Homo sapiens: one gene and its partner. The protein of the gene in region 1 interacts with the protein of each later gene in a pairwise test. Each region holds a gene or a part of one and is shown in the gene's direction. Other genes may lie near its edges. The genes, in order: PKLR and SAV1.

What was found.
Region 2: the proteins of PKLR (region 1) and SAV1 interact in a two-hybrid assay, tested with the Homo sapiens proteins (one study listed by IntAct).

The regions. Positions count from the first base shown.
Region 1 is NC_000001.11:155,290,974-155,299,630, reverse strand, and holds part of PKLR (pyruvate kinase PKLR), read left to right. Parts: intron 1-3,874; coding exon 3,875-3,966; intron 3,967-4,062; coding exon 4,063-4,194; intron 4,195-4,328; coding exon 4,329-4,515; intron 4,516-4,878; coding exon 4,879-5,149; intron 5,150-5,245; coding exon 5,246-5,396; coding exon of another isoform or gene 5,397-5,416; intron 5,417-6,040; coding exon 6,041-6,193; intron 6,194-6,287; coding exon 6,288-6,454; intron 6,455-7,693; coding exon 7,694-7,875; intron 7,876-8,657. UniProt on the Homo sapiens protein: Pyruvate kinase that catalyzes the conversion of phosphoenolpyruvate to pyruvate with the synthesis of ATP, and which plays a key role in glycolysis.
Region 2 is NC_000014.9:50,653,778-50,670,541, reverse strand, and holds the start of SAV1 (protein salvador homolog 1), read left to right. Parts: upstream 1-2,235; 5' UTR 2,236-2,574; coding exon 2,575-2,668; intron 2,669-3,041; exon of another isoform or gene 3,042-3,160; intron 3,161-4,922; coding exon 4,923-5,363; intron 5,364-16,764. UniProt on the Homo sapiens protein: Regulator of STK3/MST2 and STK4/MST1 in the Hippo signaling pathway which plays a pivotal role in organ size control and tumor suppression by restricting proliferation and promoting apoptosis.

The DNA.
Region 1 (8,657 bases):
GGAGGCTGAGGCAGGAGAATCGCTTGAACCCAGGAGGCGGAGACTGTGGTGAGCCGAGATCACACCATTGCATTCCAGCCTGGGCAACAGGAGAAAAACTCCATCTCACAAAAAAAAAAAAAAAAAAAAAAAAAAAAAAGTGGGCTGGGCTCAGTGGCTCATGCCTGTAATCCCAGCACTTTAGGAGGCCAAGGTTGGCAGATCGCTTGAGCCCAGGAGTTTGAGACCAGTCTGGGTAAATGGCAAAACCCATCTCTACAAAAAATACAAAACTTAGTTGAGTGTGGTGGTGCATGCCTGTAGTCCCAGCTACTCAGGAGGCTGAGGTGGGAGGATCACTTAAGCCCAGGAGGTCACGGCTGCAGTGAGTCATGATCGAGCCACTGTACTCCAGCCTAGGTGACAGACGAGACCCTAGAGAGAAAGAGAGAAAGAAAGAAAGAAGGAAAGAAAGAAAGAAAGAGAGAGAGAAAGAAGGAAGGAAGGAAGGAGGGAGGGAGGGAGGGAAGGAAGGAAGGAAAGAAAGCAAGCAGGCAAGAAAGAAAGAAAGAAAAGAAAGAAGGAAGGAAGGAAGGAAGGAAAGAAAGAAAGAAAGAGAAAGAAAGAAAGAAAGAAAGAAAGAAAGAAAGAAAGAAAGAAAGAAAGAAAGAAAGAAAGAAAGAAAGAAAGAAAGAAAGGAGTGAAAGTTGGCCGGGCATGGTGGCTCTTGCCTATAATCCCAGCACTTTGGGAGGCTGAGGCAGGTGGATCACCTGAGGTCAGGGGTCCGAGACCAGCCTGGCTAATGTGGTGAAACTCTGTTTCTACTAAAAATACAAAAAATTAGCCAGGCATGGTGGCATGTGCCTATAATCCCAGCTACTCGGGAGGCTGAGGCAGGGGAATCGCTTGAACCCGGGAGACAGAGATTGCAGTGAGCCAAGATCACGCCATTGCACTCCAGTTTGGGCAACAAGAGCGAAACTCTGTTTGTTTGTTTGTTTGTTTTTAAAAAAAGAAAAAAAAGCTGGGCGCGGTGGCTCACGCCTGTAATCCCAGCACTTTGGGAGGCCGAGGCGGGCGGATCACCTGAGGTCAGGAGTTCGAGACCAGCCTCAACATGGAGAAACCCCGTCTCTACTAAAAATACAAAAAATTATCCGGGCATGGTGGTGCATGCCTGTAATCCCAGCTACTCAGGAGGCTAAGGCAGGAGAATTGCTTGAACCTGGGAGGCGGAGGTTGCGGTGAGCCAAGATCGTGCCATTGCACCCCAGCCTGGGCAACAAGAGCGAAACTCCGTCTCAAAAAAAAAAAAGGCCAGGCGTGGTGTTTCATGCCTGTAATCCCAGCACTTTGGGAGGCCGAGGCAGACTGATCACGAGGTCAAGAGATCGATACCATCCTGGCCAACATGGTGAAACCCCGTCTCTAATAAAAATACAAAAATTAGCTGGGCGTGGTGGCACATGCCTGTAGTCCCAGCTACTCGGAAGGCTGAGGCAGGAGAATCACTTGAACTGGAAGGCAGGGAGCAGAGATCGCACCTCTGTCCTCCAGCCTGGTGACAGAGCGAGATTCCATCTAAAAAAAAAAGAAAAGAAAAGAAAGAAAAAGTGAAAGTTTTAAGTGCTATGGGGAAAGAAATCAAGTGTGATAAGGGCATCAGGAGTACGAGGGTGAAGACAGGTTGCAGCCCTAAATAGGGAGGTCAGTTATTATTGAGTAAATGAGACCAAAGGGAAGACTTGAAGGAGATGAGAGAATTAGCCATGCAGAGACCTGGGGGAAGAGAATTCCAGGAAGAAGGATCAGTCAGTGTCAAGGCCTAAGTCAAGAAGGTTAGAAGAGCTAGAAACCATCAAGGGGGAAGAGCGGCAGACATGAAGAGACTGTGTACGGACAGGAAGATCAGGTGCAGCTTTGTAGGCCATTTTTAGAATTTGAGTTGCGTTTTCCTCCGAGTGAAATGAGAAACTGCTGCAGGGTTTTGAGCAGGGGAATGACAAGCTCTTATTTATGTTTTAATAGAGCCTCCCCTCCCCTGCTGCTGCACTGAAAATAGATGGGGGGTGGGGGGAAGGGTGCCCCTGCAGTATTTCTGGCTCAGACCAGTTGGCGGCAGTGAGGTGGTGAGAAGTGGTCAGATTCTGAATGTATTTTGCAGGTAGAGCTGACAGGATTTGCTAATTGATCGGATATGGGGTATGGAGTGTGGGCGAGAAAGAAAGGAGTCAAAGGTGACAGGTGACTCTGAGGTTTTTGCCATAAGGAACTGGAACGATGCATTAGCCACTGAGCAGGAAAGACTGTGGTGGAAGGGGTTGGGGGGAGAGCAGAAGTTTGCTTGGGACATGTTGAGTCTGAGATGCTTATTAGCCATCCAAATGTGATAGAGGGGGCAGTCAGGTACACAACTCTGGGTTTGGGAGAAAGGTCTGGATTGGAGAGACATTTGGGAGTTGGCTACATATAGATGGTATCTCAAGCCATGAGACTAGTTGAGACCACCAAAGGAGTGTAGGTGAAATGACGGAGAAGAGAACAGGGTATCTAACGTTAAGGGGAGGAACAAGGAAAGGAGACTGGGAAAGAGCAGCTAGTGAGGTAGGAGTCAACCAAGAGAGGGTGCAGCCCTGGAGGTCAGGTGAAGACAGTGTGTCAAAGAAGGATGTATGTTCAGGCTGCTGATGGGCCAATAGAGGAGGACTGAGCATTGAGCATTACATGGAGCAAAAACACAGAGGTTCTTGGTGACCTTGACAAGAACAGATGCAGTGGAGAGATGGAGGCCAACGCCTGAGTGGGGTGGGTTCAAGGGAGAATGGGGGAGGGGAACTAGAGGTAGCAAGTACAGATAACTCTTGCGATGAGTTTTGCTGCAAGTGAGAGCAAATACTGGGACTGAGGGGAAACCAGGAGATTAAGAGAATTTTTTTTTAATGATGAAAGAAATAACAGTAGGTTTACCTGCGGATGGGGATGATCCAGTAAAAAAGGAAAACATGGCTGGGCACGGTGACTCACACCTGTAATCCCAGCATTTTGGGAGGGCGAGGTGGATGGATCACCTGAGGTCAAGAGTTCAAGACCAACCTGGCCAGCATGGTGAAACCCCTTCTCTACTAAAAATACAAAAAAATTAGCCAGGCGTGGTGGTGCACACCTGTAATCCCAGCTACTCAGGAGGCTGAAGCAGGATAATCACTTGAACTGGGGAGGCAGAGGTTGCAGTGAGCTGAGATGGTGCCACTGCACTCCAGCCTGGGCGACAAGAGTGAAACTCCCCCCGTCTCAAAAAAAAAGAAAGAAAAAGAAAAGGAAAACATGGGTGTCACAGAGGACCACAGAATGGCTTAATTTATGTCCTTGAGCAGGTGAGAAGGAGGAGACCTAGTGCACAAGTGGAAAGACAGATAGGGACCGAAGAATGAGCCAACCTGCTCTCGGCTAGCAGCTGCCCCATAGCAGTGCAGGCATGGGATAGAACTCAGCTCTCCTCAGTCCATGAGGCCTCCTAGCTCTAAAAGCCCGCACCCAAACGCCCTCACCTGGCTCCCAGCCCCTGCCCTACACCCCATACCCTGGGGTAGCCGGGCAAGCAGCACTTACATACCCATGCCCATACAGTGCCCATACATGCCCATACAGTGACCTCAGGCCTGGCGGAGGGCACTCCCCTCCGATTTCCACACTGCTGCCTCCCCAAGGGGATGGATGTTGGCTTGAGAGGGAAGGGGAGTCTGTGATCTGTGGGCAGGGGTTGCATCAGGGAATAAAGATCAGGTAACAGGACGCCTGTGGCGTGAGGCGTTCTGAGAATGGTAATGGGTTGGGTTTGGTTGCCTCTCATGTTCTGGGGGAACGTTGTCTGAACGTGAATCTCTGGTTCTAGGGCCAGCATCTCGCTCCGTGGAGCGCCTCAAGGAGATGATCAAGGCCGGGATGAACATTGCGCGACTCAACTTCTCCCACGGCTCCCACGAGGTGCGGGACGGGCCGCCGGGCAGTGGGTGGGGCAGGAGGATGCCTCGAGGTCCTGGCCACCTTCCCCTGAAACCCTCGCTCCGCTCCCTCCCCCAGTACCATGCTGAGTCCATCGCCAACGTCCGGGAGGCGGTGGAGAGCTTTGCAGGTTCCCCACTCAGCTACCGGCCCGTGGCCATCGCCCTGGACACCAAGGGACCGGAGATCCGCACTGGGATCCTGCAGGGGGTGAGCAGTGGGGCTGGGACTCGCTGGGCCAGGGCCGGAAAGGCGGCGCCTGTAGGGTTGGGCCCAGGCGTGGGCAGGGGCGGGTCCCGGACTCCGGGGCTCAGAACTCACATCTCCTCTGGCTCCCTCCTTAGGGTCCAGAGTCGGAAGTGGAGCTGGTGAAGGGCTCCCAGGTGCTGGTGACTGTGGACCCCGCGTTCCGGACGCGGGGGAACGCGAACACCGTGTGGGTGGACTACCCCAATATTGTCCGGGTCGTGCCGGTGGGGGGCCGCATCTACATTGACGACGGGCTCATCTCCCTAGTGGTCCAGAAAATCGGTGCGGACGCGCCTCCCGCCCTGACCACATCCGTGCGCTGGGCACATTCCCTTCTCCTTGGCTCCCCCATCAGCCCTCAGACCGATCACACCTTCCCCTGGCCACGCGTTTTTGCCAGCCCGTCCCAGGAGTCCCCAGCGTGTAGACTCTGCGCTCACCCTGGGTTTGGGCTGGACTATGGGTGGGTCGTTTCTTCCACGGACGTCCATCTGTGCCTCTTCCGGGCGAAGCCCAGAACAAGGGCGGAGAGATGAGGAGGACATGGTTCCTGACCTCTTGCGGGTCCAAGCCCCAGTGTCCTCTCTGCTGCAACTGTGCCCCGTCCTCACCCCTGACCGCAGCTGGCTCTTTCCATGTCCGCAGGCCCAGAGGGACTGGTGACCCAAGTGGAGAACGGCGGCGTCCTGGGCAGCCGGAAGGGCGTGAACTTGCCAGGGGCCCAGGTGGACTTGCCCGGGCTGTCCGAGCAGGACGTCCGAGACCTGCGCTTCGGGGTGGAGCATGGGGTGGACATCGTCTTTGCCTCCTTTGTGCGGAAAGCCAGCGACGTGGCTGCCGTCAGGGCTGCTCTGGGTCCGGAAGGACACGGCATCAAGATCATCAGCAAAATTGAGAACCACGAAGGCGTGAAGAGGTGAGGCTTGGGCTCTGTTCCCCTTCGGCCCTGTCGCTATTCCCCATCACCTTTCTTCTCCTGCCTGCCTCTGCCTTGATTCTCCCAACCTCTCAGGTTTGATGAAATCCTGGAGGTGAGCGACGGCATCATGGTGGCACGGGGGGACCTAGGCATCGAGATCCCAGCAGAGAAGGTTTTCCTGGCTCAGAAGATGATGATTGGGCGCTGCAACTTGGCGGGCAAGCCTGTTGTCTGTGCCACACAGGTCTGGAGTGAGGCCTTGAGGTTCGGCACTCTGTGGGTTTTAGGGACACCTGTGGGTGAATACCCACACTGTAGGGGTTTATTTTGTTTTGTTTTGTTTTTTGAGACGGAGTCTCACTCTGTCATCCAGGCTGGAGTGCAGTGGCGCAATCTCCGCTCACTGCAACCTCCGCCTCTTGGGTTCAAACAATTCTCCTGCCTCAGCCTCCCAAGTAGTGGGGATTACAGGTGACCGCCGCCATGCCAGGCTACTTTTTGTATTTTCAGTAGAGACGGGGTTTCACCATGTTGGCCAGACTGGTCTCGAACTCCTGACCTCAGGTGATCTACTCGCCTCGGCCTCCCAAAGTGCTGGGATTACAGGTGTGAGCCACTGCACCCAGCCCACACTGTAGGTTTATAGCACATTTGGATGAAAAGTGTTTGATCCTCAAACGACAAAGTTAAATATACTTTGACCCCTATTTTCAGGGGTTGTGACCAAACGACAAAGTTAAATATACTTTGACTCCTATTTTCAGGGGTTGTGACTGTGACCCTGGATTTTGGGACACTCTGAGAGTGTGGGTGTCAGAGAAGTAGCTTGGGCAGGGTCCCCAGTCACAGTGTGAGTCCTACAACTTTGACATCCACGCTGTCCCCCAGATGCTGGAGAGCATGATTACCAAGCCCCGGCCAACGAGGGCAGAGACAAGCGATGTCGCCAATGCTGTGCTGGATGGGGCTGACTGCATCATGCTGTCAGGGGAGACTGCCAAGGGCAACTTCCCTGTGGAAGCGGTGAAGATGCAGCATGCGGTAGGAGCTCAGAATGAAAAGCAAATGGGCCAGGGAACCAAATCCCTTCCATACCCCAGTGCCCCTTCCCAGACTAACATTCTGGCACCTGCAGATTGCCCGGGAGGCAGAGGCCGCAGTGTACCACCGGCAGCTGTTTGAGGAGCTACGTCGGGCAGCGCCACTAAGCCGTGATCCCACTGAGGTCACCGCCATTGGTGCTGTGGAGGCTGCCTTCAAGTGCTGTGCTGCTGCCATCATTGTGCTGACCACAACTGGCCGGTGAGGGGGATATTGGGAATGTCCAGATGGAGCTTTGGGTCAGGGGTGGGCTGGGACGGGCCCCAGGCTTGGGTTTAGTCTGGTCACCAGGGGTGAAGAGTGTCCACCTGAGACAAGAGGAGAGGCAGCAATGACAGCTGGAGGCCAGGAGAGACAGAATGCCAGTGAGCTTCTGGGGGCTGGAAGGGGACAGCGGCATCACTGGGCACATTGGCTTCAAGGCCATTTGGGCTTCTGGGGCTCAGAGGCAAGTCCATTCGGCCCACAGAGCCTACCAATACTGAGGTATTACAGAAGGGTCCAGTAGGTCTGAGTTTAAGTCTTTACTCAGAAATGTAGCTCTATTAGCCTGCTGTCTTTCCTCATGAACAGGACAAGGTAATGATTTGTTCTTCATGGGGTTGGCAGGATTAACAGGAGATATTAAGTACTAGATAGTACTTAATATCTATATAGTAAATTAAGCACATAATGGACTTTCTCAAAAGGGTTTTATACTCTTGGGTTTTTGTTTGTTTGTTTTGTTTTGTTTTTCTTTTGAGAACGGCAGCTCGCTCTGTTGCTCAGGCTGGAGTAAAATGGTGCAATCTCAGCTCACCACAACCTTCACCTCCCAAGTTCAAGTGATTCTCCTGCCTCAGCCTTCCGAGTAGCTGGGATTACAGGCGCATGCCACAACGCCCTGCATATTTTTTGTATTTTTAGTAGAGACAGGGTTTCATCATGTTAGCCAGGCTGGTCTCAAACTCCTGACCTCAGGTGATCCACCCTCCTTGGCCTCCCAAAGTGCTGGGATTATAGGCATGAGCCACTGTGCCTGGCCAGCTTTTATATTTCTTAAAGAGATTTCTCCTTATTATCTCATTTGATATATCTGTATTATCTCATATCTTTCTTGTGTGGTAGGGAGGGCAGGCATTCTTTCTTTTTTTTTTCTTAATGCAGAGATGGGGTCTCACTATGTTGCCTAGGCTGGTCTCCAGCTCCTGGGCTCAAACAATTCTCCCATCTCGGCCTCCCAAAGTGCTGGGATTACAGGCATGAGCCACCGCTCCCGGCCTGGGAGGCAGGCATTCTTACACTCATTTTACAGGTGAGAACACCAAGGCCCAGAGAAGTATGATGACTTACCCAGGGTCACACAGCTTGTTAGTGACACCTGGAACTGGAACAAAGATTCTCCTTTCCTCGTTCACCACTTTCTTGCTGTTCTGGGCTGACCTTCTCTGCCTCCTCCAGCTCAGCCCAGCTTCTGTCTCGGTACCGACCTCGGGCAGCAGTCATTGCTGTCACCCGCTCTGCCCAGGCTGCCCGCCAGGTCCACTTATGCCGAGGAGTCTTCCCCTTGCTTTACCGTGAACCTCCAGAAGCCATCTGGGCAGATGATGTAGATCGCCGGGTGCAATTTGGCATTGAAAGTGGTGAGCTACCTAGACCTTCCCTGCCACTCCTACCATTTGTATCAGGAGCCCCCCAACCCAGCTTCCCATACCCACTCAAAGGGCCTTGCCTCTCTCCTGTGGTCCCAGGTTTTCCCTGTGAGAGTCACTAAGACTGAGATATCAGTCTGGCATATCACAAATACCTCTTCCATCAGCATAGCCACACAGGCAGACGGCCGTGCTACTTAGCAACACACTCTGCCCTAGCCCACAGATACTCCTGCACCTTTTTTTTTTTTTGAGAGAGAGTCTTGCTCTGTCGCCAGGCTGGAGTGCAGGGGTACGATCTCGGCTCACTGCAATCTCTGCCTCCTGGGTTCAAGTGATTCTCCCACCTCAGCCTCCTGAGTAGCTGGGACTACAGGCATGCGCCACCACGCCTGGATAATTTTTGTATTTTTAGTAGAGACAGGGTTTCACCATGTTGGCCAGGATGGTCTCAATGTCTTGACCACGTGATCCGCCCGCCTCGGACTCCCAGAGTGCTGGGATTACAGGCGTCAGCCACCGTGCTGGCATCTCTTACACCTTTAATATACTGCAGTGGTCACATTCCCTGCATGCCACCCGTGGGACATACTTCACTGCCTCATTCCCTACAGGATGGCCTTGATGTGGTGAAAGGTGGTGGCTGGTTCTCGTTACAGGGCTGGCCTGGTCCCTCAATGACTAATTTTCTTTCTTTTCTTCTTTTATTATTATTATTATTATTATTATTATTATTATTATTATTATTATTATTATTTTGAGATGGAGTCTTG
Region 2 (16,764 bases), on another chromosome or scaffold:
ATGTTGATGAGGTGAGCCTAGGCAATCTCAGAATTCTTTTTCAACTATAAAATTCTAGGATTCTTTCCTCCGCACATGTGAAAGGTGTCCCCGTACTTCAGGCTCTGGGAAAACTCCAGGTGTGAAGAGTTGCCTTTATTAACAAGATGCTAATATCCTTTTGTCCTTCTCTGAGGTAAGCCTTAGGCAGAAACCTGGCACTTCTTTGGCTCCCCCTTCCTCCTTCAGCTCCCGCCTTCATACCCTGATGTGTAACAAAACCCCATTGTGCTCTCACTTAAGTTTCATCACTCTTTCTTCTCCCTGCACACTATCAACGCTTTAGGACTCGTCCTTATTTCTGAACCACAGGAACAAGTAACTGTTTTTCTAATGTTTCTCTCAGAGTACACTCTGCTTCTAGTGAGTTCCAATTCTGTTTATTAAGATTTTCATACCCATGGCAGTGATTGATACTCCCACACTCCATATTCAATGTCAGCAAATTTGGTTGGCTTTCTTTAAAATATGTCTAAAATATGTCCACTTACCTCTCCACCTATTATTGCCTGGGTCCAAGCCAGCAATAACTTCTGACTGATCTCCCTTTTGCCCTTAGCTCCATTGTCTACTCTCCACACAGCATCCAAAGCAGTCCTATGAAAACATTAACTCAGATCATGTCACTCCTCTGCTCAAAGTAACATTCCTTACAATGGCCTACAAAGCCCTAGGTGCCGTGGCTATTGTTACTCTCTAACTGCATTCCCCATTCGTCTCCCCGTCTTTTCCAGTACATAAACCCTCTTACTGTTCCTCCAATCTGCCAGGAACATGGCCACTTGCAGCGACTTTGCACTTGCTGTTCTTTCTGCCTGGAATATTGTTCCTCCAGTTAGCTGCATGGCCAATTTCCTCACTCTGTCACTTAACTCCAATGTCACCTCCTCATGAGCCTTCTCTGGTCCCTCTATTACCCTCTCAAAAATTGTGAGTCCTCTCTTATTTTCACTTCATCACTTATCACTATCTAACATAGTATGTTTTGCTTATTTTTTGTCATTTTTTTCTCTTTCCCATGACAGTAGGGATTTTTGTCTGTTTTGCTTATTGCTCTATCACAAACGACTAGCGCAGTGGGTAATGAGTATTTCCTGGTTAATGAATGAATTGTGGGAGATCTGCACCAAGGGAACATATGGAGACAGACACTAGATCAAATGTCTCCTTTGTTTGCTCATGGTAAAACATTTGACCATCTTCTTAATCTTACGTGGTAAAAAATTCCATGTCTTTTGTTAATTGTGATATATGTCTTAGATCTCTTGTGAGATGTTTTAGATCTCAGGGAAAGCATTCCTCATTATTAAAGCATTAATTTGGTCACTAGGGGATGAATCCAATCTTATTTTCCAAATGTTATCCTGTACATTTGGCAGTCTTGCTAAGTTATATAGAAGGAAGTAGAGTCTATTATTTTAGATAGAAAATTCCCGGTCCCGACTCGCAGTGGTCAAAGTCTTCAAAATTCTAAGATCATAACACATAACGTCAGGAGGAAATATGTGGCTATTAATCATACTAATGATAGTGATGATGCAATAAAATAATTGTAATATGCTAACACCAATTGTATCTTAAAAAGAGGTACTGGAAATTCCATCTTGCATTCTTCCGTTTTTTCCTGTTATAGAAAAACGCACTCCCTGATACTCAGTAGAGGATCAACTTATTTCTAGTTAATCAGCATGAACGTTTCCAGCAGAATAGATGCTTTGGTGTAGCACTTGCCTGGGAGTCATGGTTAGCATTCCGCATTTTTTAGAGAGCTGAATTCAGCAGCCTAGGAAACATTAGGAAGAACACCTTCAAACAGGGAACAACGTCTTGGGGGGAAAGAGAGTCACTGCCTCCGCTAGGGATCCCGAGGGGGTACAAAAGCAACAACAATAAAAACTCGTGGAGAGTAGGTTCCACGACATGCGCATGCGACGAACTCCCGCACTCAGCGGGGCAGGTTTCGTCCTTCATCTTCTCAGTCGGCAGGACCTGCTTCTCGCTGAGGATGAGTGAGGACAGCCGCAGCTCGGCGGGGACGGCCCGGTAGCCTAGAGCGCCGGCACCCGAGTCCCGCCGCCGGAGCCGCGCCTGGAGCCGCGGTGGGGGAGGGGCAGCGGCGGCCCGCGCTGCGTCGAGCTTCCCAGAATTCCCAGCGGCCGCGGGGAAAGTTTACGGGATGTAGGCGGCGGCGGCGGTAGTGGTAGCGGTTATTCGGCGGCCCGCGGCGGACCATGGCCCTGGCCCTGGCCCGGCGTCGCTGGGCTTTCCTCACGGCGTCCCCGAGCAGCGTCGCAGAGCGGGCCGACTTCCGGGAAGGAACTGACCAGCGACTGAGCGGCGGCCGGCGCGCTTAGCGCCCTGAACATGCGGCAGTCCCTGCGGGCGACCCCGGGCTCCGGACAGGCGGCGGCGGAGGCGGCGGCTCGGGAGGGAAGGAGGCGGCGGCGCCGGCGGAGGTGGCGGCGGAGACGGCCGGCGCCCGGCGCGGAGCCCTAGGGAGGCAGTTCAGCGCGGCCTCGGGCCTCGTCGAGAAGGATGCTGTCCCGAAAGAAAACCAAAAACGAAGTGTCCAAGCCGGCCGAGGTGCAGGGGAAGTACGTGAAGAAGGAGACGTCGCCTCTGCTTCGGAGTGAGTGTCAGGCGGGGCGTGCCCACACCTGGCCCAGGCGGCCAGGTGCTCCGGGGACCCTGGCGGGGGCGCCGGCGGGTCTCCAGGGCTTCTCCTTCGTCCTTGGTCGCGTGAAATACTGGTTTTGAGATTTTCTTGTGTCTGAAGTGGTATTCGTTGATTGAAAGCCCATAAGAGTAAGAAACTTGGGTTAGTCCCCCCCGCGCCTAACCCCCCCAAGAGCACCCCCTAAAAATAACAGACTTCCTCGCCCCACCAGGCAGAGTTGTTGGTTTTGATTACTGGAAGAGAGAGTAGGAAACATTTAAATTGCTTATCACCTAATGCTATAGGAGTAAAAGTAATTAGACAGGGACACTTTTTACTCTTTTAGATGCGTCGAGATGTGCGTCATGTTTGCAAACATTGCGGGTGTCTCTCGACTGTGCTGCAAGTTGTGCGAACTCTGGGGCAGAATTCCTTAGTCCTGCTGCCGGATGCAGACTTGAGAAGGTGAAAAGCATACCGTCGTTCTTGTAGCCGCCACCCAAAGCCTCATCACTCTTACACAGCAGAGCAGAGAGCCAAAAGCCTTTGTATTTGGCTATATTCGTGAGATTCCAAGAAGGCAACTCAAAATAATTTCTATCGTATTAGAGAACCCCCCCCTCGAAAAGTTTTTTTTTTTAATAGGGTAGATCCCACTCCCAATCCCCACCTCCGGTCCCCCGCTGCTTTTCTTCTTAATGTAAGTATTTGATTTTTGAGTTGAATCTCTTGAATTTTTAATTCTTGTGTGTTCAGGACATTTGTGAGGCATGGAGCTGGTATTTTGGTGCTCTTACTGCGCCCTGGGCCCTTTGCTTAAGTTTCCTTCTTGGAAGCTGGTAGTAACCTTGTGACTTAAGTATTACCTCATATTGTAATTGGGAAAGTTAGGTTTCTAGTATTTGCCCAAGATCACACAGATGGGAGAGCATGTTTTTCCATCATAACCACATTGTCAGCCTTCCAGATTTATGGTGGTACTTGCAATACTTTCAACAAAATATATGTCAGTTGAGTACATCAGTAACTCGAAACTTGATTTTTAAGTTGTTTTTTTTTTTTTTTAACAACTTGATTTTCAGTCACACATGCAGTTAGGTTTCTGGCTGTTTTTAAGTGATAGCTTGCTGTTTGCTGCAAATAAAGTTTATCAGACATTACTTGAAATCGTGAATTATGTTTGTCACACTTTTTATTATACTTTAAGTTCTGGGGTACATGTGTAGAACGTGCAGTTTTGTTAATGTTTGTCACAGTTAAGCAAATAACTTTTGATCTACTTTGTTTTGTTGTCGTTACATCAAGTGTTGAGCCTTATTTATTCAGATATTTGTTTCTGTCCAGTGTTAGTTTCTGAAGCTTATTAATATGAGTGTCTCCAATATTGTTTACTTGATGAATAATAAGAGGGTCTGCATATTCAGGTTTTTGTCTTGTTTTAAAGGTATTTGCTTTCTAACTGGGAATGTCTTAAGCTGTTTTCAAGTTTCGTGTTTAAAAGTACTGTATCCTAAAAGCTGTTGTTCTATTATCTACTATTTTGAATTATAATTACATAGTTTCAGGCTTGGTTTTTTGAGCCACTTCTACATTTGTGTGCTTCTTTGAAATGAGAGCTTTTTATTTTCAATTTTCATACATAAATTTTTGGCTTTCTAGCTTTTGATTACTGTGCTAGTGCTAGGTAATTCCAAGAGAAGAAAGAGCTACTAATTTTTTAATTTTTAAAGGAATCCACTTTTACATATTTGGGAGTAGCATTAAGTTCTATTTTTGAAATTGTGTTTGCTTCAAGAAGGATTTTTGGCAGTTTCTAAAATGAAGTGAGAACAACAAAATAAACTACTTAACTAGAAACTATCAATTTGTTATATTATTTCCTATTTTTATACATTAATTCATGAGCATTTCATTAATGTGTAGTTCATAGATAAGATTATTGATATTTTATCATATTATGTATGGTAGTATGCAGAATACATTTTATTCTAGCTGAGCTTTTACGCATAGTCCATTAATGCAAGTTATATAAATTCATTTGATTGGGAAAATATTAATCTTCCTCAATTTAAAATGCCCAAGTACCATCCTAAACCAAAATTTAAAATTGTGTTTTCTTAAGTTGACTGACATTTTGATTTTGGGGTGGTAGACATAAATGAACAAATTTCGAAAACTTTTGTTACTTAATGATGAAAGGGTAATTTTATCCTTTGTTTTATTGTAGATCTTATGCCTTCATTCATCCGGCATGGTCCAACAATTCCAAGACGAACTGATATCTGTCTTCCAGATTCAAGCCCTAATGCCTTTTCAACTTCTGGAGATGTAGTTTCAAGAAACCAGAGTTTCCTTAGAACTCCAATTCAAAGAACACCTCATGAAATAATGAGAAGAGAAAGCAACAGATTATCTGCACCTTCTTATCTTGCCAGAAGTCTAGCAGATGTCCCTAGAGAGTATGGTTCTTCTCAGTCATTTGTAACGGAAGTTAGTTTTGCTGTTGAAAATGGAGACTCTGGTTCCCGATATTATTATTCAGACAATTTTTTTGATGGTCAGAGAAAGCGGCCACTTGGAGATCGTGCACATGAAGACTACAGATATTATGAATACAACCATGATCTCTTCCAAAGAATGCCACAGAATCAGGGGAGGCATGCTTCAGGTAGCTTAACATTATAAATAATATAGTAGTTTATATTTATTGACATGTCAATTAAAAAGATGTTCTTTTCTAGATTTTCTTGGGACACGAACAAATACTACTAGCGAAATGTTTTTCCACTTTGCTCATCCTGCTTAAGCCTGTGTGCAAATAGTTGTTAATCTACACTGAATGGAAGAGTCCTTGTGACCATTTATTTTATTAACTCATGTTATGTAAACTTGGTATTTATCTCAAGGCTGTCTAGACTCTTAATGCTGTGACCCTTGAAAACCTAGAGAATTTAATGTCTCCAGTTGGGCTGAATTTAGGTTTAGGTTTGGTAGAATAATGGGAAGGGTAAGTCTTCAGAGACACTTGACGGAGTCCTCAGAGACACTTGACAAACTTGGGAAAGGAAAGAAGAGTAGGAACAACTGGGCATGCTCAGTGATACCCTGAGCAACCACATTACTTCGCTAGATCCTGCCCTTTTTCTCAACAAAAAGTAGTTCAAGAATTATTTCCTGAGTTGATCAAAAAGACTTATTGTCATATGGTTAATTATGTGTTGAGCATGTCTTTTTATTATTTTTGTAACAGACAAAAAAAATTACCATATAATTTAAGAAAAGAAGGTACTTTCCATATCTCCTGAGTTGGAGATACTTCTGAAAGGAGCAGAAGAGATGGGAGAAATGTACAATTCTACTTTATTCCTGAAGTCCTGGTTTTACCAGATAAAATGAAGTGAGATGAAAATTAAACTTTCTTGTCTGATTTTTTTTTTCTACCAAGTTATAGACTTTAAATTTTGGCAGGATAAAAATAAAATGTGAGACAGATTTACTTTTTGGCTCACATAACTTCAAATAAGGCGACTTAAAAATGGTTTGGAGCATTAGTATTTTGACTGTAGAAAAAATTTATTCATTTAATATTAACTGTTTATGTGTCTAGCGTTTTCCTTGGGTCTGTTGGTCTCTGCTTTCTGGTACCTTATTTGTCTAGTACCTTATTTGTGGAAACAAAACCAATCTATACACAATGGTCACAGAAAAATTGTTATACTTTGTGATACTAACTGTAAGTGCAACAGGGAATCAGAAGAGAGATGAGTATAGGCTGGAATACTTAAAGAGATGATTCATGGAAGAGGTAGGACTTGGAGTGGGCCTTGAGCTTGGCCTTTAGATTAACAAGGGCCAGAAGAAGGACATTTTACGTGGAAAATTGGGAATAGCACAATGAAAACAGAGTAGGCATGGTTTAAATATAAGGAACAGTGTAGTTCTGCCTGGTTTGAAGAAATAAGATGTAAGGTTGAGTGGAGATTTGTGGTTCAACAATAGGCTTAGATTTGAGTCAAGTGGAAGCTCTTGCACATTTCGGAAAGACAAGTGATTTTATGAAAGCAGTGTTTAAAGATTAGTTTTGTACTAGAATTAAGGGTAGATTCCTAGAGAAAAGAGGATTGCAGGTACCAGTGGGTACCAGTGGTAATAGGAAAACGCAAATCTAGGATGCTTTTAAAGGAAAAATGAGAATTAGAGTTTAGGAGAAAGCAGATCACTGAAGTTTTAAAAATAATGTGGAATAGTTGGTAAGAACAACTTATTTTATGAAAGCTGACATCAGAGTCTCACTGGAACATTGTAGAGGAGAGGTTTTCTAGGCATGTGGAAATGCAGTAAGAGGCATGGGTAAAAGCACCTTTTAGTTTTTAAGGAATTAGGTTAAAGAATTAGCTGCATGCTTGAGTGTTTATTTTGGTTATTTCTGATATGCAGTTCTGAACCTCAGGAATAATTTGTTATCTAACTAAAATAGTAAGTTTTAAAAATAAAGCTCATTTATATTTTCTTCTAGAATAATAACTGCTTATTACAGGAAATTTGCAAAATGCAGAAACGTAAAGGCAAAGTACCTGTCCACCAGAGATCCTCTTAGTATGTTATTTTCTTCATCTTTTTCCATGCCAAATTCTTTTTTTACATGGATGTGATTATATAATATTTTGTACAGTTTTCTGTTCTTTTTACTTGAATGATTTTCTTCATGTTGTATACTTTTTATGAGTGGTTTTAATGACTGCGTAATCTTCCATTTGGTGCATATTCAGTGGTTAATGAGGACTTGACCTATACTTCAGAAATTTGGAAAGAGGAGAAGTGGGACACGCCCACATTAATGGGACTTGGCCACTAACGGGGTTTGAAGGACAAAGGAGAGGGAAGAGTCAGATAGGATTAGCACAGCACATGACTGCCTAAGAGATGCTCACAAAAATAAATGGCTGAATGAGTGAATGAACCCAGCGGTTTTAAATCTGGAGGCTTAAGACAGTTTTTGGTAGCTGAGGGAGAACAGAAATAGCTATGTTTACTGTTAATATAGAATATGTGTTATTCTTTGCGTTCACCTTTCCCACCTATATTGTAGACGTCACTGATAGCTTGTAATACTTTTCTACCTGAGGTTTAAGTATGTAAATATGAGGAATTAATAACAAGTTAAACTCTTGTTTTGAAAATCTAATTTGCCAAATATAATTGAGGAAATACTATAAGAACTAAATCTCTACTGATCCTCTCTTAGGAGCAATTTGAGATAATTTTTCTAAGTTTAAAGACAGACTTTAAAGCAACTTTCCAGTCACAACTTCAAAATAAAGTACAAGTTAATTGCATACGTTTTCAGATTCAAGTATGTCATTAAAAAAATAAGATTTCAGGCTGGGCACGGTGGCTCACGCCTGTAATCCCAGCACTTTGGGAGGCCAAGGAGGGTGGATCACGAGGTCAGGAGATTGAGGCCATCCTGGCTAACACGGTGAAACCCTGTCTCTACTAAAAATAAAAAAATTAGCCGGGCGTGGTGGCAGGCGCCTGTAGTCCCAGCTACTTGGGAGGCTGAGGCAGGAGAATGGTGTGAACCCGGGAGGCGGAGCTTGCAGTGAGCTGAGATTGCGCCACTGCACTCCAGCCTGGGCAACAGAGTGAGACTCCGTCTCAAAATAAATAAATAAATAAATAAATAACAAGATTTCAAAACACTGATGAAAGAAATTGAAGAGCACAAAAACAAATGGAAAGACATCCCATGCTCATGGGTCAGAAGAATTAACATCATTAAAATGACCATGTTGCTCAAAGTAATCTACAGATTGAATGCAATCCCTATTAAAATACCAGTCATTTTTCACAGAAATAAAACAATCCTAAAATTTCCACAGAACCAACAAGGAGCCCAAATACCCAAAGTAATCCTGAGCAAACCGAACAAAGCTAGAAGCATCACACTACCTGTCTTCGAAATAAGGCTATAGTAACCACATACAAGGTTATAGTAACCACAAATAAGGCTATAGTAACCACAATAATATGGTATTGGTATAGAAAGACACATAGACCAATGGAACAAAAATAGGTAATGCAGAAATAAATCCACATATTTACAGCCAACTGATTTTTTTACAAAAGCACCAAGAACGTGCATTGGGAAAAGGACACTTTCTTCAATAAACGATGCTGGGAAAATTGGATATCCACATGCAGAAGAATGAAATCTGACCCTTGTCTCACCATATGCAAATTCAACTTGAGATGGATTAAAGACTTAAGACCTGAAATTATAAAAGTACTAGAAGAAAATGTAGGGGAAACACTTCAGGACATCGATCTAACAAAGATTTTATGGCTAAGACCTCAAAAGCACAGGCAACAAAAACAAATAGACATATGGGACTATATTAAACCAAAAGGCGTCTGCACAGTAAAGGAAACAACAGAATGAAGAGACAACATATTGAATAGGAGAAAGTGTTTGCAAAAGATTCATCCAGCAAGGGACTAATATCCAGAATATGCAAGGAAGCCAACAGTAAGAAAAACAACCCCATTAAAAAGTGGGCAAAGGACATGAATAGACGTTTCTCAAAAGAAGACATACAAATGGCCAAAAGGTATGTGAAAAAATGTGCAACATCACTAATCGTCAAGGAAATGTAAGTGAAAACCACAGTGAGGTGTCTTACCCCAGTCAGAATGGCTATTGTTAAAAAGACAAAAAAATATACTACTGGTGAGAGTGTGAAGAAAAGGCAACTGTTACAGACTGTTGGTGGGAATGTTACAATAATTAGGACAGGCACTATGAAAAACAGTTTGGAAATTTCTCAGAAAACCGAAAACAGAACTACCATATGATCCGGCAGTTCCACTGCTGGGTATCTATCTAAAGGAAAAGAAATCAGTATATCAAAGAAATACCTGCACTCCCATGTTTATCATGTCATTTGCAGCAGCTTGAATGGAACTGGAGGTCATTATATTAAGGGAAATCAGGCACAGAAAGAGAAGTGTCTCATGTTCTTACTCACATGTGGGAGCGAAACACATTGATTTCATGGAGATAGAATGATAGCAGAGGTTGGGAAGGATGGGAGGGGAGGTAAAGAGAGGTAGGTTAATGGGTCCAAACATAAAGTTAGATGGAATAAGTTCTAAGGTTTGATAGCAGAGTAGGGTAACTACAGTTAACATTTTGAAATAGCTAAAAGAGAGGACTTGAAATGTTCCCAACACATAGAAATGATAAATACTCACGGTGATGGATACCCTAAATACCCTGACTTGATTATTTCATACTCTTTGCATGTATCACAATATCACATGTACCCCATAAACATGTGCAAATAATTATGTATCCAAAAAATGCTATAAAACAATGTTACCACCTGACTGGGCTCTTGTCTGCTATCCGAATAGAGCAGAACACTGAGACAGCAGATACTGTAAAGAAGAAAGAGTTTAATTATTGCAAGGCAGCTGAGTAAGGAGGATGGGAAATGTTTCTCAGAGTCATCACCGCCAAGACTGGAGAAGCTAAGATATTTAAAGATGATTTGGCAGGCAGGGGGCTAGGGGATGGGTGCTGGTGATTGGACTGGTATGAGATCATAGGGTTATCAATGCTGTCTTCATGTGCTGAATCAGTTGCTGGGAAATTGGGGAGTCACAAGACCAAGTCAGTTCCTTGGTTGAGTTCATGGAACACTGGTCCATTTGGTGTCAGTTGGTCCACTTGTAAGCAAAGTCTGAAAAATATCTCGAAGACCAGTCTTAGGTTTTACAGTAGTGTTTGTGACTGCCAGTTACTATGGAAAGAAAGCTGGGAAAAAATGGCAGGTTACTGTTTAAACCTATAGCTTAGCAGAAGAGTTTGCAGGAGGTGAGATCACCAGTGATCAAAGTGGCCTGGCCTGTTTGGCCAGTCCAAATTCTGGAAACTATCAAGGGGGTCTGTGTGATCTAGGATCATTGTTTTCTTGTTCTTCTCTTCTATTTTCTTTTTTGAGACAGGATCTTGCTCTGTTGCCCGGGCTGTAGTGCAGTAGCATGATCACAGCTCACTGCAGCCTCGACCTCGGGCTCAAGCAATCCTCCCACCTCAGCCTCCTGAGTAGCTGGGACTACAGGCATGCACCACCACACCTGGCTAATTTTTTGTATTTTTAGTAGAGACTGAATTTCAGTGTTGCCCAGGCTGGTCAAACTCCCAAGCTCAAGCAATCTGCCTGCCTTGGCCTCCCAAAGTGCTGGGATTACAGGCATGTGCCGCAGCACCCAGTCTGGATTATTGTTCTTTAAAAGAAACAGGTTTGTTAATCTTATGGGCAGCCTGCCCAGGGGCTGCCACAGGAAGACAATTATTAGTGACTGCCATTTGTTGAAATGACTTTGCAAGCAGTCATACATGGAGGTGGAAAAAGAGAAGGAAAATATTTTATCAAAATTCGGGCCCCTACCGTAATTTTAATCTTGAGGGTGTTTTTAATTTTATGAGGGAGGCTTCAGCAGGAGTCAGCAAGCTACACCCATAGGCCAGATAGACTTGCCTCCTGCAATACAGTAGTTTTATTGGAACACACATGCACTGAAATAAGATTTGATTTCATGGAATAGCCAAGACCTTGTTTTAATGAGACAGTAGACTTCTGCCTTCGAAGTCTCATCCCAGGCTCTTTTATATCAGATTGCGTTAGGTTTAAAGAAGGTTGCAGGTAGTTGAAGAATCTCAGGTAATAAGGTATCTCTCCCAACCAAAAAAAAAAAAAAAAAAAAATTCTTTACAGCAGTTGATACACTGCTTGAGAGCTTGAGAGACTTCATTTGATAAGATTAATTTTTATCAGGGCAATATAGATTTAATGTTTTACCTTGTAGAAAAAAGTAGTACTTTTTTTGAAGGAATCTCTAAAGTTGCAGGGAAAGATTAATAACCAATTACATGCCAAACAGAAAAGCCTAATAACTGCCTCTTCCACAAGGGAAAAATCTGAATATGAGACAGTAGCTGAAAGTTTCTTGAATTCACCTTGAGAAGACTTAAAACATATTTTTAGGATTTATGCTGAATAAGGTTCAAGGAATTTGAATGAATAGAAAGGAGAAAGTAAGTTTGTAGGAGGATAGGATAGGTTTGTGCGATAGATCTATTTTCAGAAACATTGAATTTTGATTGTCATAAGCATAAAAAGGTTGGAAAATTTGTTTTGTAATGACTTAATGGCAATAGTAATTCCTGTCAATTAGTTATTAGATTTTCAGGAAACACCTTGTGTCAAGGGTTAAATTCAGCTTATTGTATTTAGTAGAAGCACAAAAACAAGTTGTATAATCTCAGAAAGTTTTAGAGCCTAGAAAGTTCTACGTTTAGCTGTAGAACTTTCAGATTAGAAAATTTGACCTTTAATGTTCTTGGCCGCATACCAGTCACGCACTTACTGTATGTTCCAAAGAAAGGAATCCTGCTGTTAACAGGAAGTCTTTAGTTGGAATACTAAAGGCAGACTGAATTCCTTTGTTTTGCGCTTAAATTTTAGTTCTGTCTCGAAAACATTTTTAAACGTTTAAAGATGACTAAAGAAATCAGGATACAAAAATCAGACTGAAAAGTGTGAGCTTTATCAAGAAATACTGGATTTGCAGTTACTCGGGTAATGTGTAAATATTTGTGTAACCAGAATCTTTTGAGGAGGGGTTGATAATCTTTAGAGACACCACCTTTTCTGTATTTATTTTGCAGAGGAAGAGAGAAAGCATTTGGTTGAGTTTAATACTTAGATCTTTTTATCAACATCTTGATTATAACACATGCTAATAATGTGTAGCATCCATTACTAGGGACCCTGTGGAACTGTGTTAGAGCTCTAGATCCATTTTATTCTCTGTAGCCACTACAAAATTTGGAAACCGGCCTATTTGAGTCTTATTCATAATGGTAGATCTCATAAATATCTGCCTGGTTGTATGAGATTAAGTTTTTTGGCACATCTACTGATAGCTGAGAGAGAAAATAATACTTTATCTGTGTCTTCGACTAAGTCATATGTTTAGTGTGTGAATGTTTTACTTTGTATTAATAGAAGGTGTTTGTGCAGTTAATTCCTGCAAATAGAAGCTGTTTTGAGGATTAATTGTGAATCCAGTTTATTACTTTCAAGGACTACTTGAAATTACAGAAAGGTAATTTTGTTCTTGTCACTCAAAAACTGAAGTTACCATTTTTTCCCACTGATTTGGATCAAAATTGGTGGCTTGCTTTTTCTTTTACTAGTGGTAGTCATATTTTTCTTTAAAGAATAAATAACAATTGATCTTTTGTTGCTGAGATTACATGGTTAGTAACAGGTTTGCATTTGACCTTATACCACTTGTTGTGTGACCACTGGTAAAATAATTCACTTGAACCTGTTTTCTCATCTGTAAATTGGTGGTAATAGTACTACCTCCTAGAGCAGTTTTGGCTATGAAATAAGACATATGGAAAGAGCTGGGGATAGAATACACATCCATAACTGTTTGCACATGTCCTTTGTAAGAGTGAGTATTTCCCAGCACTTTGGGAGGCCGAGGCAGGTGGATCACAAGGTCAGGAGTTCAAGACCAGCCTGACCAACATGGTGAAACCCCGTCTCTACTAAAAATACAAAAATTAGCTGGGCATGGTGGTGTGTGCCTGTAATCCCAGCTACTCAGGAGTCTGAGGCAGGAGAATCGCTTGAACCAGGGAACCCGCGGTGTGGAGGGTGCAGTGAGCCAAGATTGTGCCACTGCCCTCCAGCATGGGCGACAGCGTGAGACTCCGTCTCAAAAAAAAAAAAAAAAAAAAGTGAGTGTTTTGTGTTCTGTGCTTTTCCCACATACTTGGGATGTTAGTTATTGAAGTTTGAGCTTTCTGGCTGAACTCATACTGGAGGAATGATTTATTAGAGCTTGACATAGCTTTTTTATTTTTTAATCTTCTGGATCTGTTTTGGTAATGCTTTATGCTTTAGAACAGTGGTTTGCATTGTTTTGTACTGTACATTTATCTCAATAGATTTTGTAAAATTATCCCAAATAATAATTTGAAAAAATATATCACACATTGTGCTTTCAGAAAGTACAGCTGGGGCCGGGCACGGTGGCTCACGCCTGTAATCCCAGCACTTTGGGAGGCTGAGACGGGCGGATCATGAGGTCAGGAGATCGAGACCATCCTGGCTAACACAGTGAAACCCCGTCTCTACTAAAAATACAAAAAATTAGCCAGGTGTGGTGGCGGGTGCCTGTAGTCCCAGCTACTCAGGAGGCTGAGGCAGGAGAATGGCATGAACCCAGGAGGCAGAGCTTGCAGTGAGCGGAGATCGCGCCACCGCACTCCAACCTGGGCGACAAGAGTGAGACTCCATCTCAAAAAAAAAAAAAAAAAAATACAGTTGGGGTATGTTTTGAAATTATTAATAGATATCTCTAAGAAAGTTTAGGAATCATGGCTTTACAGGGCATTGGAGTTTTTTAATAGCGTTAGTAAAGCTGATGTGCCTATTTGCAACTTTTTGGGTACTTCATGGCTCCTTTATCAAATTGTCAGGCTTTAAAAATGAGAGTATTTACAGAGAGGTCTTTGTGCTTCCTTTAAATATGAATCCCAAATTTATAGTCAGATATGGCTTTTGGTACCTAATGTTGTTTAAATGTAAGAGTACATGTGGTTCTAGATTTAGGCAAGTTCAGTACATATATGGAAGTATGGGTTTTCTTAATAGATGAAATTGCCACAAACTTTTAATACGCTCTAAACCTGTATAGTTTTTGTTTTTGTTTTTGAGACGGAGTTTCACTTTTGTTGCCCAGGCTGGAGTGCAATGGCACGATCTTGGCTCACCACAACCTCTGCCTCCTGGGTTCAAGTGATTCTTCTGCCTCATCCTCTCTAGTAGCTGGAATTACAGGCATATGCCACCATGCCCGGCTAAGTTTGTATTTTTAGTAGAGATGGGGTTTCTCCATGTTGGTCAGGCTGGTCGTGAACTCCTGACCTCAGGTGATCCACCCACCTCGGCCCCCCAGTGCTGGGATCACAGGCATGAGCCACCACACCTGGCCCTTGTCTTGTTTTTAATTACTATAAAGGCTTTTGTTTTTAGGCAGGGTATAGTGGCTCACGCCTGGAATCCTAGCACTTTGGGAGGCCAAGACAGATGGATCACCTAAGGTCAGGAGTTGGAGACCAGCCTGACCAACACGGTGAAACCCCATCTCTACTAAAAATACAAAAAGTAGCCAGGCATGGTGGCAGGTTCCTGTAATCTCACCTACTCGGGAGGCTGAGGCAGGAGAATCGCTTGAACCTGAGAGGTGGAGGTTGCAGTGAGCCGAGATTGCATCACTGACTTTAGCCTGGGGGACGAGGCTAGACTCTGTCTCAAAAAAAAAAAAAAAGGCAGCTTTTGTTTTTAATAATGCAGTATTTAGAATTTTGTTTCTATTATATATTTCCTGAGGGAAGCTCTGTTAGCCAAAATATTATGGCTTTTATAAGTAACTCATATAAATACACTGAATTGACTATACATTAGAAAAAATTGTTACATTGTTATGCTTGGTTTTGGCTGTAAAGCATTTTTAACATAATGAACATATTAGAATGTAAAGTAATTTTGTGTTTCTACGATGTGATATTAAAGTCATTTGCTGTGTACATGTGTTTCATACATTGGCTTCTTTTCTGTTTAAATATTTTCTCTTTAAGTACTGAAGTTGCTTAAACTATACATATTAAACTTTCAATTGCAGTTTAATAGAAGCCTAAGGTCAGTTTCACCAAAAGGCTTGTTTTGTTCTGTTTTATTGTCACCATCTTTAAAAAATTATATGTTAGCTTTCTTTTGAAAGGGTACCGAACAAGGGTGATCTACTTGTTCTTGCATCTGTTTTTGTTCTTGCATCCTTTTTGCCAGAATACTGCATAGATAATGTTGTGTACTTTCTATTGCATAGGTTCCAGTGACATATAATGACTGATTTGTCTGTGATGTTAAGATGCAGCCATGGGTACAGATGTCAGCTTAATTCATCCATCATCATGAAGTTCTCCATAAGCCTTTTATCTATTATTGGTTTTTGGCAGCCATTAATGATCATTGGCTAGCACTATTACAGGCATACCTCATTTTATTGTGCTTTGCTCTATTGTGTTTCGCAGATACTGTGTTTTTTACAAATTGAAGGTTTGTGGCAGTCCAACAGCACGTGCGCATTTCATGTCTCTGTGTCACATCTTGGTAATTCTTGCAATATTTCAAACTTTTTTCATTTCTGCCTGTTATGGTGATCTGTGATCAGTGATTGCTCATGTTACTATTGTAATTGTTTTGGGACATCACAAGGAATTGCACTTGTGTGCAAACTAAACTAAAATAAGAAGTGGAGCCTGATGATGTGACTGCATTGCTGCTGGTCTCATGATAAAACTTGAACAGATGAGTTGCTTTTTATGGATGAGCAAAGAAAGTGGTTTCTTGAGATAGAATATACTCCTGGTGAAGAAGCTGTAAATATTGTTGAAATGACTAATGATTTAGGATATTAAATAAATTTAATTGATAAAGTAGCAGTGGAATTTGAGAGGATTGAGGCCAGTTTGAAAGAAATGCTACTGTGGGTAAAATGCTGTCAAACAGCATCACATGCTACAGAAAAATCTTTCATGAAAGGTAAAGTCCATTGATGGAGCAAACTTCATTGTTGTTTTTAAGAAATTGCCACAGCTATCCCAGCCTTCAAACACCACCAGCCTGATTAGTCAGCAGCCATCAATATGGAGACGGGACCCTCCACTAGCAAAAAGATGCTGTGAACTCACTAAAGGCTCAGATAATCATTAGCATTTTTGTAGCAATACAATTTTTTTTATTAAGACCTGTACTTTTTTTAAAGATATAATGCTATTGCACACTTAATAGACTGCAATATATTGTAAAATATAACTTTTTTTTTTTTTTGAGATGGAGTCTCACTCTGTTGCCAGGTTGGAGTGCAGTGGCATGATCTCGGCTCACTGCCACCCCCACTTCCCAGGTTCAAGCAATTCT